Linked DNA regions of Homo sapiens: region 2 is linked to region 1. A link means that fine-mapping ties the variant in region 1 to the expression of a gene that starts in the linked region. Tissue or cell type: whole blood. Region 1 holds a variant in brackets; the other region holds the start of a gene. All regions are shown on one strand. Distances are from middle to middle.

The links. PIP is the estimated chance that this variant, and not a neighbour inherited with it, causes the effect.
Region 2: FZD7 starts here. The variant in region 1 is fine-mapped to the expression of FZD7 in whole blood (TOPMed, PIP above 0.99).

What each region holds. Positions count from the first base shown.
Region 1 is chr2:201,979,375-201,982,058 of GRCh38, forward strand. No RefSeq gene overlaps it. Among named protein-coding and RNA genes, the nearest start is that of FZD7, 53 kb to the right of the region's middle. The variant T/C (reference allele first, on the strand shown) is at 1,197.
Region 2 is chr2:202,032,644-202,035,327 of GRCh38, forward strand. It overlaps FZD7 (frizzled class receptor 7), which reads left to right and starts at 1,212. Exons shown (of 1, transcript NM_003507.2): 1 at 1,212-2,684. The coding sequence starts at 2,005. RefSeq lists silencers at 794-1,343, 1,454-1,533 and enhancers at 2,096-2,684, 2,134-2,253.

The DNA.
Region 1 (2,684 bases):
GCTGTCCTGCTCTCGACACCCTCCCCCTTGGCCTTTTTCTCTGGGACAGACCCTAACTGGGTAGCATTCTTTTTTTCTTTTCTTCTTCTTCTTTTTTTTTTTTTTTTGAGACGCATTGCACTCCTGTTGCCCAGGCTGGAGTGCAATGGTGCAATCTTGGCTCGCCACAACCTCCGCCTCCTGGGTTCAAGCGATTCTCCTGCCTCAGCCTCCTGAGTAGCTGGGATTACAGGCATTTGCCACCACACCCGGCTAATTTTGTATTTTTTAGTAGAGACGGGGTTTCTCCATGTTGGTCAGGCTGGTCCCGAACAGGCTGGTCCCGACCTCAGGTGATATGCCTGCCTCGGTCCCAAAGTGCTGGGATTGGGTGGCGTGAGCCACCACACCTGGCCTCAGGGTAACACTCTTTTTTTTTTTTTTTTTTTTTTTGAGACAGTGTCTCGCTCTGTCACCAGGCTGGAGTGCAGTGGCACGATCTCGGCTCACTGCAACCTCCGCCTCCTGGGTTCAAGCAATTCTCCTGCCCCAGCCTCCCGAGTAGCTGGGATTATAGGCGCCCACCACCATGCCCAGCTAATTTTTGTATTTTTAGTAGAGACGGGGTTTCACCACACTGGCCAGGATGGTCTCAATTTCTTGACCTCGTGATCCACCCACCTCAGCCTCCCAAAGTGCTGGGATTACAGGAGTGAGCCACCACACCTGGCCAGCCTCAGGGTAACACTCTTAACTCCAGTCTGTGATGCAGGGCCGGAGTGGGAGGTGGCAGGACAGTACACAGACATCAGAGTTGCAGGGACTGCACACATCCACGCTCCTCTGTGTACTAGCTGTGGACCTTAGCAGGAGAGTTCATCTCTCTGAGCTTCAGTTTCCTCATCTGTAAAATAATAATGCCTATATTCAAGGAATAGTGTTGGGATTAACCTAGATAATAACTAGAAAACATTCAACACAAGTGCCTTGTATACAGCTACTGTCCTATAAATGGTACCGGTTGTGATTGTTATTGTTCATGGTTCTTCCTGTTGCTGAGAACAGGGCAGGCATAAAGAAAGAAAGAGAGACGAAGAAACTTGAGGTAAACTACTTCATGAAGGAAATCTCCACCCCAGAAAGAAACCAATACCCTTCATCCTCTCGGCAAGTTTCGGAGCATCCACATACCACCAGAAACTTGAATCTGTCATGTT[T/C]TCTAATTTGGGACCTTAAAAAGGGAACAACCATTAGCAAGTGTATTCATATCAGTCATATTATCAACCCAGATCGCTTATTTGAACAGCAGAATTCTTGGTTTCTTGTCCCCACTGCCTGCCAGCAGGAGACACGTGGTTGTGTTCTGATGGCACCAGCCCTACATCCTGTACTCTCACACATGGCCATTTCCCAGCGGAGCCCCGGGCAGGAGCCTGATCCACCCACTGATGATCATCCCACGTTGGGCCATTCGTCCAGGTTCCCCCTCCTGGCTGTCTGAGGTCATCGTCCTCTCTGACAATGACTCTTTCCCATTTTGGGGTCTCAGGCCCCTTTAAGAATCTGGGAAAAGGACAAATGCTTCCTTGTAATTTGCATAGATTCTGGCTAGCTTCTAGGCCCCCTTAAGACCACTGTTCCAGAATATGTGGGGACACTAGAGCCTGCTTCCTGTCTTGGCTGTACCCCACAGAGTCTATTGGAATTTGGCTTCCCTGAGGATCAGAGTGTTCTTCCACCTGGCGGCCTGCATGGAGCCAGCTTGTCAAAAAGTGGTCCCATATGCGCCACACTGCTTTGCTTAGAGCTTCATGTTCTGGCAACGAACCCAAAGAGACTGAGCTGTCCCACATTTCTGAAGAAAAGTGAAAAGACAAAGCATGGGTAATTTCCCAGTGTTCTACAACCAGAGGAGGGTATGTGGCCCTGACCCAGGGGCCAGGGAGGTGGGATGCTCTCAACCTATGCCACAGCCAAACCAGAAGCTTGGCGGCAGGAACTAACGTGAGCCGGTCATTCGTGCTGTGCTGTGAGCTATGATAACTGTCTAACTTAATCCGTTCAGCAACCCTGTGTGGTGAGAATATTCTCCCCATTTCACAGATGAAGAAACAGGCACACTGAGGTCAAGGAATTTGCCAAGATCCCAGTACAGAAGAGCTAGGGCTTGAACCCAGGGAGTCTAACTCCAGAGCCAAACGGCTGACCTCTCCACTACCTCACCTCTGTTATCAGTTGCCTCATCTTTGTTATTACAGACAGACTGGAGAGCAGGAGAAAACAGAAATGTTCCCACAGTGCTCACCTCTGGCATCCTCTCCAGTGATGTCACACTCCCAACAGACTGGAATTCAGAGAAGCAAAGTAACTGCCAAGCCACATTGGTTCCCTGATGCCCCCTGGTCTCTTCTTCCCAGAAGCAAAAGGCACCAGAGAGGGACAGGTGGGGAGCTCAGTACCAAAGGACTTGCTTCTCTACCAAATCAGGGCATCTGGGCTTTTCGGACTTGGGTCAGGGGACCTCATCCCTGGGTTTCTCCACCCAGACCTGCTCCTAAGGAGTATAAGTTGTCACAGCTGCAGGCTAAAGACTTTGCTACATCCACACTAACTAAGACAATAGCAACTAGATCAAGACTCTAAACACATATCCTGGTGGCCTCCAAAAAGTCACCAGAACACTTTCATCTGGGTTGTGTAAATTG
Region 2 (2,684 bases), 53 kb after region 1:
CCGCAGGAGTAACCAGAGAGCGCGCGCGAGCGCCCAGCGCCTGGCTCAAGACGAAGATTTAACCGAGAACAAAAGAACGTTTGCCAATCAGAAAACGCTACCCGAGAACGAGGATAACCCCGCTTTGTGTTTTGAAAACTCTTTAATTAGCCTGGTTTCTAAGACGCATTAAAACATTCCTACGCAGATTCTAAATGGAGGATCAAATGGTTGCTTCTGCAACGAAGATGGGATCCCGAAAGGGCACACGCCGCAGAACCAAGGCACACGGGGCCACTGAGACGCCCGGCGCGTCGTACAGAGTGTTCCTGGGCGCTCGGTCTCAGGTTACTTCTAGAACCAGTCTCCCCAACGCCGTCTTCGTTTCCTTAAAACCTCGCTAGAGTCACCCCAGTTCCCCAGACTCCAGGCCGTGCGCGCGGGCGGGGTGGCCTGAGCCCGGGTTCCCCGCTCTCCCTGCTTCGGGCCCTTCCTCCGAGGGGTCCTTCCTCCCGCCGTCACTCGGCCCCCTCCGCCCGACTCGGGTTTCTCCTCGGAGGCGGCCCCTCCTCCTTTTTATAACTCGGGGGAGGGGAGAGGGGACTGTGGCCTCGCGTGGACTCTTTGGGTCCGGGGGGAAAGAGGCGATCCGCAAGGCGCACCCCCTTCTCGTCCCGTCCCAAACCCCACATTGAGGACCCGGCGACCCGAAAGCCCCGCCAGAGCCAGCCTTTGCAGTCCTAACGCGACTCCTGGTCACGTCTCTCCCCGAAGGGGCGCTGCGCGGTCCTCGCTCCCCTCAAACGCCGCTGGCGAAGGCGCCCCTGCTCAGGAATGCGCATCTGAGTGCACCAGGAAGAGGAACAAATCTTTGAAGCAAATTCCCTTTCTGCGCGTTTTCGTCCCTGAGCGAATTCAGGGTAAAAGTTTTTCCGAACTTTTCCCTCCCAGTCCCCCGCCCCTCCCCTCAGGAATCCGCCCAGAGCGCCGCGGACACCGCCTCCGCCACTCCCGCGCCCGCCCCTTCCGACTTCCGCCCAATCCGAAGGCGGCCACCGAAAAAACAAAGGCCGCCATTGGGCCGCCGGGGCCTGGGGCCGCCCCCGGAGTGGTTTGTGAATGGGGGGGGAGGGGAGGGGAGGGGAGGGGACGGGAGGGGACGGGAGGGGGCGGGCCGGCCCGGAACCCCGCGAGCCCGACGCTTCTTCTGGCGACCAGCGCGACTCCGAGGCGTTAGTCGGCGCTCACTCCCGGCGGGCGGCGGCGGCGGCGGCGGCGGCGGGCGCCAGGACTCGCTGCTGGGGCTGCGAGGGGCTGGAGGGGCCGGGGCCAGGCCGCGGGCACGAGCGCCTCGCGGTTTCGGACGCAGTGTGACTGGGTTTCCAAAAAGAACTCGCCGTGCTCCCGACTCCGGGGCCGAGATCGGACTCAGCAAGAGCCGGCCGTTTGGCTGAAACTTGGGGCCGAGCTTTTGGGGCTGAAGAAGGAGCGGGGTGTGGAGGAGGAGGCGAAGGAGGCGGCGACGAGCGGAGCCTCGAGGCCAGGAGGCGGGGCAGCACCGCGGAGGCGGCGGCCGGGGCGAGCGAGCGGCGGCGGCAGGGGTTCTCCTAGCGGGGACCGGACCAGGCGCGGGGGGCGTGCGCGCTGCGGTGCGCCGGGGGTCCAGAGTCTTGGGCAAACTTTGAAGGGTGCCGGAGCCGCTTGTTGCTCCTCGCGGCGGAGGGAGCCGCACCGTTACGTCCCCGCGGGGAGAGCGAGGCGGCCCTCCTCGGCGCCCCCAACCCAGGCTGACGAGTTTTGGGCCCCCGGCGGCCCTGCGAGTGCAGGGCGGCGGCGTCTGCGGCGCCTTCGCGGCGCGGGCACCCAGGCGGCAGCGCCCTTTGCTCCACGCCGCCCACGGCCCGGCCCCGGCGCCGTGAGGACTCTCATGCGTCGGGCGCGGCGGCGCCTCCCCGCATCCAAGCCTCTCCCAACCGCCTCGTCGCACTCCTCAGGCTGAGAGCACCGCTGCACTCGCGGCCGGCGATGCGGGACCCCGGCGCGGCCGCTCCGCTTTCGTCCCTGGGCCTCTGTGCCCTGGTGCTGGCGCTGCTGGGCGCACTGTCCGCGGGCGCCGGGGCGCAGCCGTACCACGGAGAGAAGGGCATCTCCGTGCCGGACCACGGCTTCTGCCAGCCCATCTCCATCCCGCTGTGCACGGACATCGCCTACAACCAGACCATCCTGCCCAACCTGCTGGGCCACACGAACCAAGAGGACGCGGGCCTCGAGGTGCACCAGTTCTACCCGCTGGTGAAGGTGCAGTGTTCTCCCGAACTCCGCTTTTTCTTATGCTCCATGTATGCGCCCGTGTGCACCGTGCTCGATCAGGCCATCCCGCCGTGTCGTTCTCTGTGCGAGCGCGCCCGCCAGGGCTGCGAGGCGCTCATGAACAAGTTCGGCTTCCAGTGGCCCGAGCGGCTGCGCTGCGAGAACTTCCCGGTGCACGGTGCGGGCGAGATCTGCGTGGGCCAGAACACGTCGGACGGCTCCGGGGGCCCAGGCGGCGGCCCCACTGCCTACCCTACCGCGCCCTACCTGCCGGACCTGCCCTTCACCGCGCTGCCCCCGGGGGCCTCAGATGGCAGGGGGCGTCCCGCCTTCCCCTTCTCATGCCCCCGTCAGCTCAAGGTGCCCCCGTACCTGGGCTACCGCTTCCTGGGTGA